Linked DNA regions of Homo sapiens. The protein of the gene in region 2 purifies or fractionates together with the protein of the main gene of each other region. This does not show direct contact. Each region holds a gene or a part of one and is shown on either strand. Other genes may lie near its edges.

The links.
Region 1: the proteins of EDIL3 (region 2) and ZNF496 purify together in Homo sapiens (co-immunoprecipitation; 3 studies listed by BioGRID and IntAct, with this or other methods). This does not show direct contact.

What each region holds. Positions count from the first base shown.
Region 1 is NC_000001.11:247,296,845-247,301,098, forward strand, and holds the end of ZNF496 (zinc finger protein 496), read right to left. Parts: coding exon 3,675-4,254; 3' UTR 571-3,674; downstream 1-570. UniProt on the Homo sapiens protein: DNA-binding transcription factor that can both act as an activator and a repressor.
Region 2 is NC_000005.10:84,374,724-84,382,024, forward strand, and holds part of EDIL3 (EGF-like repeat and discoidin I-like domain-containing protein 3 isoform 1 precursor), read right to left. Parts: intron 1-7,301. UniProt on the Homo sapiens protein: Promotes adhesion of endothelial cells through interaction with the alpha-v/beta-3 integrin receptor. Inhibits formation of vascular-like structures. May be involved in regulation of vascular morphogenesis of remodeling in embryonic development.

The DNA.
Region 1 (4,254 bases), on a different chromosome or scaffold from region 2:
TCTTCTAGCTGAGGCAAGAGTTGGGGAGATAGAGAAAAGAGAAAAACGACTAAGGTTGGCTTAAAGCTGTGGTGTGACCAGGAGTACAATCTACTCCCAGCGTATGAAACAGTTATTTCTTCTTCTTTCTTTTGGGGAGGGGCCAGATCAGGTGACCAGAACTATCTAAAGCCTGCAGGTCTTAGAAAACATGTTTTGGCTGTGCTTCACATTTTACTTTTTGTTTTTTGAGATGAAGTCTTGCTCTGTCACCCAGGCTGGAGTGCAGTGGCGCTCCACCGTTCATAGCAACCTCCACCGTTCACAGCAACCTCTGTCTCCTGGGTTCAAGGGATCTTCCCCCACCTCAGCCCCCAAAATAGCTACAGGCATGTGCCACCATGGCAGGCTAATTGTTCTATTTTTTTCTTAGAGATGGGGTCTCACTATATTGCTCAGGCTGGTCTCAAACTCCTGACCTCAAGCAATCCTTCTGCCTCGGCCTCCCAAAGTGCTGGGATTACAGGAATGAGCTGCCACGCCCAGCCACATTTTACTTTTTAAATGAAAATGAAAAGCCTAACAGGAATATTGACTCAGCAAGTTTTTATTATGCACCTGTGGGTTTGTGACGATGCCAAGGGATCAGAGGAACAAAGAGAGAGGATGTTGCTCAGATGGGGGTCTCAACCTCCAGAGCAAGGTGGACACAAAGCTCCAGCCAGCTGCCCAGCCCCTGGGGTGGGAGGGAAGGATCGAGGGGTAGCTGTTGTCAGATAAGGCCAAAGGTATCAGTGGCCAAAAGGGAGACAAAGATCTCCTGGGTGCAGCCTCCTCCACCACTGTGGTGAAGGGTGTTGGGCTGGAGGGTTGGCCGACCTCTCCTGAGAGCACGTTCCCCCTGCTGCTCCTGCTGCATGGCATCAACCTGGGTTTCAGTTACATTACCCAGGAGGATTTCCAAATCCAGAGGCAATGTGGCCTTCCATTTCCTGAGGTGCCTTGGTTGGCTCTGGATCAGTGGTGGGGACTCAAGAGACAGCCTCCCTGTGGCTTCCAGCCCCTCACATTCCCTTTGTCGCTTTCTCCTTCATGATGTGGTTTTACACAGAAAAACACTCTGGTAAGTAGAACAGTGTTCTTCTCTTGAGTCAGACGTCTGAAGCAGGAAGGTGAATAACCTTCCCAAGACCTTAGAGCTACAGAGAGAATCCTCAGCACAGGTAGGAGCACACAGGTAGGTGGGGTAAACGTGTACAGAGAGCCTGGCTTCTACTTGGAATTTTCCCCTCCCTTGGCCTTAAAAATCGGATTTCTCCCTTTTCCAGCTATGTTGATACAAGAGACAAACTATTTAGAAAGTAAAAGCCTCAACCGTTTATTTTGTGTTCAAAGTATAACCAAATGATTTTATTGCATTTACTGCTCCTGGGCATGCAGATGCATCTACACAGAAACAGCAGTTGTGGTTATAAAATCTTTTAACGAGTTTGGGGCAGAGGCTTTTTAATTATTTTTGAGACAGAGTCTCATTCTGTCACCTAGCTTGTGCAGTGGCATGATCTCGGCTTACTGCAACTTCTGCCTCCCAGACTCAAGCAATCCTCCCACCTCAGCCTCCAGAGTAGCTGGGACCGCAAACGTCAACACCACACCCAGCTAATTTTTTGCATTTTTGGTACAGACGGGGTTTTGCCATGTGGCCCAGGCTGGTGTCACTGAGCTAGGCAATCCACCCACCTTGGTTTCCCAAAGTGCTAGGATTACAGGTGTGAGCCACTGCACCCAGCCCAGAGTTTTCCTGATGTGAAAATTACGTGAGTGACAAGGAGCACCAGGAGCCTTGCCTGACTTACTGTCTGTTGGTAGGATGTGACATATGAATAATACAAAATACCCGTCTGGTTTGACTTGCAGATTAAATCACTGCTAGACTACAGCCTTGATGCCCTCTCTTGCTGACCCTAGCCAACATAACCAGTCTTCCAGGAACAATACCATGTTTTAAATTGCTTGAGGTTTCACTACCTGCTGTCACTCTCAGTCCGGAATCCCAGCAGGAGACACAGCTCCAGCTGGCCTGCCCAGCCCCCATCAGAAGGCAGGGAGGAAGGGGAATTTGTCAGCGTTTACGGCTATTGAGTATGATTCTTCCATGCAGAGGACACCTGCCCTAAATGCTGAAACTTGGGTCTGAACCCTGCCTTTGATGGAATTGTGAGCAAGCTCACTCAAGTTTGTATTGACTCATCTGTAAATTAGGAATGATATAGCATACCTCACGTTTATCTGGAGTCATGGGCTGAATGCTGTCCCTTTCAAATTCCGATGTTGAAGTCCCAACCTCTAGTACCTCAGAATGTGACCTTATTGGTAAACGGTTGCTGCGGATACAGATGAGGTTATACTGGAGTCGGTGGGATGGGCTCTAATCCGATATGACTGGTGTCCTTAAACAAAGGGAGGTTTGGAGACAGACACGCACACAGCAAGAGTGCCATGTGGAGATGAAGGCAGAGACTGGGTGACGCTTCCACACACCAAGGAATGGCAACTGCCAGCAAAGGCATGAAGCCGCTTCTCCCTCACAGCTCTCGGAAGGCACCAACTCTGAGGACACCCTGATCTTGGACGTGCACCTCCCAGAACTGTCAGGGAATACACTCCTGTTGTTCTAAGCCAGCCAGTGTTTGGACACACCAGCACTCCAAGCTAATGTATCTATCAAGTGTGTTGTCAGGCAAGGTTCTGTTCTGGAGCTTGGCTCACCCAGACAGGAGAACCCCTCACTGGGGGCAGAGCTCCACATTCCTAGACAGGACAGATTGGAAGAAGGGACTTAAGTGCCTTTTAAACGATGACAACTCCGCTTCCAACCCACAAGCATTTACCAAGGATCTTTGGGGTATAAAGACATTATGGGGTAGGTGTGCAACACAAATTAAAATGTAAGCTTTGTTTTTGGTGAGCTCCAGATCCCTAGTGATTGGCCCCCAGGAAAATCAACAGGTATGACGACTGTTTCCAAACCTCAAGAAGGAGCTCTGCAGACCCCTGCCACAGAGGCCAGCCCAAAAGGGCTGCCTGATCATCTTGGATCTGCGGGGTGCTCCTGCCTACCTGATGGCCACGAATCTGGGGCTCAGACATGACATGTCTGGCTCAGTGTGCCTGGCCCTGCTCCCCACTGAGCCCATCAGTCCCACCCTGCCTTCTTCTTTCCTCTAGTCCAACATCCGCCAGCAGCTTCTCAGTGGAAGTGCAGGCATCCTGGAGCTTCAGGAGCAGATCCTAGCGTTCAGACAGGGAAGGAGGGGAGGGAGTATACTGAGGTTTGGCTGGTGACCAGGGTGCCGCCCTGACGGGGGATAGCCCAGTTTTACTCCCCGAGCTTGGGGAGCATGGGCCAAGGGTCTCTAAGACGCAGAACACCTGGCATGTCCAACCTGGTGATGGCACATCCCCCCCGTTTTTTGGCACAGCAGAAACAGAACACTCACTTGGCCACTCTTTCATTACCTGGGGGAGGGAGAGTGCTCCCATGGCACCACCCGAACGCTCACTACCTGAGAGCAAGGACAGGAGGGAGGTGTGCTCTCTATCCTGGGGAAGGTATGTCCTGGGTGGGGGCGCTGATCAGTACCAAGGTGAGGGGGCAGCACCAGCCAGGGTGAGGCCGCCCCAGGCGGAGAGGCTCAGTAGGAGTTCAGAGCCTGCTTGGAACGGCGCTTCATGTGCAGGCGCTCGTGGCGGAGGAGGTCATAGTTCTGCGTGAAGCTCTTGACGCAGTACCGGCACTGGAAGGGCCGGGCTTTGTCCTTCAGGTGAAAGTGGCTGCGGTGCCGAGCCAGGTGGTCGTGCCGCTGGAAGGCCTTCCCACACTCACAGCACTGGAAGCTCAGTTTGGCCTTGCCGTTTTCCAGCGGCTCTTTGGGACCCTTGTCCGCGTCCTCGGATGCCGCCTGCTCTCTCTTCTCCACCGGCTGGAGTCTGTCCGGCTGCAGGTGTATCCGCCGGTGGGAGAGCAGGTGGGAGTTCAGGCGGAAGCTCTTCCCGCAGGCACCACACCGGTAAGGCTTCTGGGCCTCGTGGCTCTCTAGGTGCCCATCCAGGTCCTCGCTGTCGCTGAACAGCTCCCCGCACACCGAGCACTCGTGCGGCTTCTCCTGCTCCCTGCGGCTCCGCAGATGCCGGATGAAGTTGACCCTCCAGCGGAAGATTTTCCCACAGTTCGGACACACGTAGGACTTCTTGGAGGTCTGCACCTCGCCTCCG
Region 2 (7,301 bases):
GAGGTGGTTTCCCCTGTGTTGTTCTTGAATAGTGAGTAAGTTCTCAGGAGATTAGATGGTTTTATAAGTGTTTGGAAGTTCCTCCTTCCCTATTCCCTCTCTTGCTGCCACGTGAAGAAGGTCCTTGCTTCCCCTTCGGCTTCCACCATGATTGTAAATTCCTGAGGCCTCTCCAGCCATGTGGAACTGTGAGTCAATTAAATTAAACCTCCTTCCTTTATAAATTACCCAGTCTCGGGTATTTCTTTTTTTTTTTTTTCTTTTTTTCAGACGGAGTCTCTCTCTGTCACCAAGCTGAAGTGCAATGGCATGATCTCGGCTCACTGCAACTTCTGCCTCCCAGGTTCAAGCAATTCTGCTGCCTCAGCCTCCTGAGTAGCTGGGACTACAGGCACACACCACCACGCCCAGCTATTTTTTGTATTTTTAGTAGAGAAAGGGTTTCATCATGTTGGCCAGGATGGTCTCGATCTCTTGACCTCGTGACCCGCCCACTTCAGTCTCCCAAAGTGCTGGGATTACAGGCATGTGCCACTGCGCCCAGCCTTCGAGTATTTCTTTATAGCAGTGTGAAAATGGAATAATACAGCATAATTCTCATTGTTTTGTAAAATACTTAAAATGATTGCAGTTTGAAGTTTTTTTAAAAAAATAAACCATATTTTGGTTGAATAATTCTTCACATAAACCAGAAAAAAAAATATTCTAATTGATGTGGTTTGAGATTATTTGGTGCTTTTGTTTGGCTAAAACTTCTTAATGGGGTTATGTGGAAATAAAATTAAATGAGGATGAGATGTAAGGCAAATTAAATATCTTCATTACACTAGGAGAAATAAAAACCTTGTTAACCTCTAAAGTCACTTTGTACTACCTGATGTATCTGAAAATTACAGAGAAAGCATGCTTCTACACATCACATTGAATAGCAATGAAACAATGTAGAGGAGCAATGAAATCCTAGAAAATTAAAATAAATCAAAAAATTGTGCTGAAATCAAACTAAATGGCAAGATTTAAAGAAAATGTATTTCAAACCACTTCCCAAGTGCTCATCTTCTTACCAGTGATGCATTCTAACACATTAACACTTTCTGACCAAATGAATGAGCATACTCTTTTATTTCTGAATGTGAAAAAAGAACTTTACACTTTACCAACCTAAATTTGAAATTTTTAAATTATTGTCCCAAGAGAATAAGTATAATTTAATCCTTCTAAAATAATTACTAGTGAAATAATGGTTAGACATAATGTGTGTTTTACAAATAATAAAATCATTTAACAAAATATCTCCATGATATACAAGATGTGTCACTCACTGAGACAGAGCATCGCCTAATAGTTAAGAGGACAAGCTCTAGATCCTAATTTTAACATGCTACTTAGTAGCTCTATGATCTCTATATCTCCATTTTCTCATTTATATTTCAATAATAATAGCACCTGCCTCAATAGTTTTGAGAATTAAAGATGATAATTAGAACAGTGGAACACATAGTATGCAGTCAATACATGTTAGACTTGAAAGATATTAGAAAGAATGTACCTTGTTAACTTATCTAAGACTCTTAATGCTGACATGATGGTGGTCCCTAAGTAATGAAAAGAAAGCAAAAAAAATAAAAACACAAAATGATGCCTGAAAAATTACTGTTTCTAGGCCAAAATCAAATTTAGTCAGAAATGTCAGAACCTTGCACCTAAAAAAGGGAAAAATCACTTAGAAGCAGCTTTTCTTTTAATTGAAGGTTCATAACAAACACAGTTAAGTACTTTATATCCTGCCTGCACTTGAATATTATATTATCAACAGTGCTCTTGCAGGAGTGTTGAGAAATATTTTCAAAGTAGGCTCATTCTACAACACACATTATAAGGAATAGTTATGTAAGAAAGTGAAAAACACAGCTTTTAAAGTTCCTGAAACTACTTTGACCTATTTTTATATATAAGAGACACACTGCTGTTTAAAATGTGCAAGTACGTTTACAGGCAAACTGATGGGGGTGGGTAGCTACATTCAATTCAGTATATATTAAGTGTCTGTTTGGGTCTTCTTGTTTGTTTTGCCTGGTACTATTCTAAGCCCTAGCTCAGTAGAAAGCACAAAACATGAAACAAGAACTTGGTATATAAACATTAAAGCACTGCGAATGGTAATTTGGTTTTTGTTTGTCTGTAAACAACATTCCAGAAAAGTTAGCGTTTATAATACAGAAGTTAAACTATAGAAAGATAAATAAACAGAAAAAATAGCATAGTTAAAATTAAAGTTCATATAGTATTTGGAAAGAAAATGTGATAAAGAGTGCAGCAGAGGCCGGGCGCGGTGGCTCACGCCTGTAATCCCAGCACTTTGGGAGGCCAAGGCGGGTGGATCACGAGGTCAGGAGATTGAGACCACCCTGGCTAACACGGTGAAACCCCGTCTCTACTAAAAATACAGAAAAATTAGCCGAGCCTGTAGTCCCAGCTATTCAGGAGGCTGAGGCAGGAGAATGGTGTGAACCCGGGAGGCGGAGCTTGCAGTGAGTTGAGATCGCGCCACTGCACTGCAGCCTGGGTAGCGAGACTCCGTCTCAAAAAAAAAAAAAAAAAAAGAGTGAAGCAGAGATGTGAGCACAGACCTAAGGCTCAGGCCTGTAGGTGGGAGACTGCTCTACATTACAGAGAGGGATCTGTCCATTTATTTCAAATAAAAAATATTCTCCAATGTTTCCACTCAATTGTTTTGGACTTTCCTGATTGTGTCATGAGCCCATTTCATCCTGGCTGACCTCAAATAATCCCCAGAATCAGTAAAATCTAAATGGTTCCCCTGACCTAAAATACAAGAGGGGATTTAAAGGATTATTTTGCATTCCCAAAATATACCACTTTGTTAAATACCAAGCACAAACCTTAAGGAATGCATGGTGGCCTAACCCCATTTAGAGATTATCATCTTCAAATCAAGCATATATCATCTAACAAGAGATTAAAACCTTGGTCTTCCCATTTATGAAATATTATATCATATTAAATTATTTTAAGAGATCAATCATTTTGATACAAACCTGTTTTGGAAAAGATAAAAGGCAAAGCTAAGTCAATCTTCTTTCTCCATAGTAACAACCACATTCAAAAGTGCTTTAGTGCTTAAAAAGCCGTCACCTAAATTCTTGTACTTAAATCCTCCATTCTAAGTCACACACTATAAATCTGAACAATTCCTACACAGTTACTATCACTATAATAATGCATATTTTAAAACAAAATAGCAGCACATTTTCTAAAATATAACCAAATAATTGCAGGACATTTTATCTACATTGTAAGGTCTACTTCTTTTTTACAAAATTCAGTTTTGTGTCTTCTAAAACTTTATTACCTTAGAAGAAAAATAATTTTAAAATACCAACATTTTATTTGACACAACGGGAAAAGTCTTAAATAAGTACATTGTTCAGATATCTAGCTATTTCACCATTAAGCAGGTTTTCAAGCTTAAACATTTTTGACCAAGTCTTTTTTTAAATAATGTATACATTTCACTGCATTTGCACCCAAAAAATGTTGAACATCTTGCAGTGAGGCTTTCTCTAGGTCGCAAAACCAGCATTATCACCAGTTATTGCATTCTCTTATATGGTGATACACTTACCACTCCCCACCCCAAACCCTCCCAACTGCATGTACCCAGTTTTTTGTACTGCAAAGTATCACTGCTTTTACATATACTATTCGAGTCTCCTCTTTGTCTAAAAGTTGGCATGTTTTACTGCTCTGATTAAGCCTGACCTATTACTTCATATGCTTTTCACTTTCTGGATTCAGTTTATAGAGGACCCAGAAACTTGAAAGCCAAGAGAAATAAGCTTTTCTATGATACATGATCTAAGACCTAACTATGACATCTATTTTTGTGGTCAGAAGTTTCTGATTCTTTATCCTAGGTTCTCAGCTATGTGGTATGTGGATGAAGCTTCAAGGCAAGTGGCTTCTCCACAAGTGAAGTGGATATAAATTACTGTATACTTGATAGCTTTAGGCAGGACAGTGTGATCAAATCAAGGTGTAAAATCCTGAGTTGCTCCATGATTTAGATCCCAATTTATTTCCACTTATGTTTTAAACTTCAGGTTTGGTAGGCAGAGGTTTGACATTATCATCTTCCTTTTCTTTCCTCACAAAAAGATAAGTTACAAGTTTCACAACGTTTCAAAGGTTTGCAATCTTTTAATAATGATGACAAAATATCACTATCAATTTTACAGTAGATGTTGTGTCCTATTTGCCATATAACAAGGAAATGAGGGAGGAGGGGAGAGGAGGAGAAAGAGACGGAATGAAGGAGAGAGAAATTTTTATCCTAGGAGAACTCTGACACAGAAAGAATGCCACTGGAAACCGACTATTTGGCACAATGTCAGTGACTGTATAAAAAAGCTCCTTAAAAGGGTATAATGGTGAATCTGTAACATAGTTTTGAGGGCTACATCAGCAGATGCTGGAACTACAAGTTATCAGTTAAAGGTCAATTGCAATCAAAATAAATTAGTTCAAGTCCCTGACATCAATTGATGCAGAGGAGTCACATATATAGAAATTAATAACTGGCTTAAATGGGATATAACAAAGCTTTATTTATCATGACATTTGTCTCTTTTGGCCACATGACTTGTTTTATGTAGAATCTTGCAAGATCTAAAAAACATACACTTTACCATAATGACAAAAAGAGTAAATAAAAGCATTCATCTCTTTCCAGTGCAGTAGATGCATAGGAATAGTTGAGTGTGTATGTCTGTGTAAATCAATATAACAGAACTGCTATTTATGAAACTTATAGTTCATATGAAGAATAAGCTTAGAAATCGTGGTATAAATTTCATTAATAATTGTTTTACTACAAACACCTCATAGCTCTCTGTGTTTTTCCTTGGAAGGTACTTAGAAGACTCCCTCTAAAGTAATAGTTCAACCTAAGTGTGCACTTGAATGTCTGTGTTTCCAAGTTAAAATCCTATGGTAGAAGGATTCTACCTTACAATGCCCTCTTTTTTTCTTCCTCAGGGAAGCAATGAAAACTAACTAATAACATTAGTTTCGTAAAGAGTAGAAAGTTACTTTATGTGGATCTGCAGATTCACATTTATGACTTGACTTCTTTTATTTTTCCTTTTATTTTATTTTTTCCTTTAAAAGATCTTCGTTGATTATCCTGACATCTGCTGGTGAGGGCACAGTTGATTCTAGTCTACTTTTCCCTTCAACAACTTGCTCAAATCAAAGATTTTTAGGGGTATTTTCAGTGACAAGTGGTAATACATTCAGTTTAAGTATTTATAGTACTTAAATTCTTGCTGTATCACATAGGAAACCATGAGAAATATTTTAATAATTACTTCACATTGGCAGTCATTTGACTCTGTCTATAAATACATGTTTGCTTTGATTAAGCAAACAACATTATAATCATTACATGGACTATGATAAAAATAAAAAAATCATTTTAGAAGAATATTTATATAGTCTATAACTATAGAACATCTAAGGAAGATGCTAAGCGTCTTCCTTAAAACACAGAGAAGAACTGAATAATAGGAATGGCTTAGCTTTGGTTTTCTGCTTTTTAAAATAATAATGTTAATTTTCAACCTACTTAGCAAATAAAAAGTAAATGATTAACTATGACAGAAGCCATTAACACTCAACACATATTTGCAAAATTTGCTATTTTTTACTCAGTATCCAAATGTTATGATTTACTTCTGACTTGAACTGAGTTCTGAAGCCTGCACTGTTTCTTTGGAAGAGATACAATGAACCTATTACATCCTAATCTTACTCAAAGCTATTGCACCTGCAAGTGTGTGCAGTAAACAACAAATATCAGAATTACTTTTTTAGGCTTCAAGAAACTCTCAAAGGAGGCAACTTTTAAAAAATTATACACTAAATGATAATATATACAGTTCATCCCATTATGCAAAATCCTTCAAAAATGAAAAGTTTTAGCTAATTAAAACTTTATCTTGAAATTAATAAAATTAACAGCTGGTACTACTAATTTAACTCTAAAAACTGTCAAGCTTTTACTTTTAATGGTATCGAGTGACCATGCTACTTTATTTTAGTCATGTATATCTTATTCCTTCCCTTTACATTGCTATAATTTTATTAGAAGAAAAAAATCACATGTATCTAGAGAGAAAAGCAAACTTTATTAAATATTTATTTAAAATACCCTAGATTTTGAATACATGATTTATATGAACATTGATGTCAATATATTTGAGAAAATTATGACATAGTTTTAATTTAGAAAAGTATTCAGAAATACATTTGCCTACTTTTGAAGATTTTTGCAACTTCAAGATCAAAGAAGGAAAAATAGACCATCTCAATTTTTTCCTGATTTTTAAAAATTATTTTAAGTCTTTTCCCAAAACCATATACATTTAAAACAAATACATTTTAATTCTAAGGAAACATTTCAGGAAAAATCAGAAAAACATTTTCAGAACCAGAGGAAAAAATTGTGTGTTGTATCACCACAGTGGCCAAAATATTGCAATACTGTCAAACTTTCACATGAGAATACTTCATTTTCACTTAATTCTTATTTTAATTTGATATTTCAGAATTATTTTTGTATGTTTTACCTTGACTCTGAAGTTAGCATTTATTTTTAAGGTATAAAATTTAATGGTCAGGTAAATTAGGCAACGAAGACATCAATGTGTAATAATAATATAATAAGATAAAAGAAACTCCTTATTTCTGTATAAATGTAACTATACTAATCATAAAAGGTTAGTGTTGTTATCTGGAGTGAGACTGTTCAGGTATTAATTTATTCTCATGTAAAATTAACTAAAAATCGCCATTGATTAAAAAAAGAAAATGCAAATGCCAATGATTCATAGTATTTAGGACATGTCTAGACATTTTTAGACAGTGCCATTTGCTTAAAGACTTCAGGCACAAACTGCAGGCACAGGGACAGATTGCATAAGATGTCACGTGCTTGCTGCAACTGTATGCATGTTATTGAATTTTTTAGAGCAACCCATACCGTGAATAATTTAATAGTTAATAAAATATTCAATCTGACTGATCCATTGGTTTAATTTTAAAATAAAGACGACTAATAAAAGGAGTTACATATCCTTATCAAATCCCAGGCATTAATGCAAGTAAATTGCAACCCATACGTAGGGAAAACACCAATTTCTAAGAGACATGAGATTAATGATTGGGGGCGGGAAGGAGTGCAAGGAAAATTCTGTGTTAGCACTGGCTTCAATAAGTTT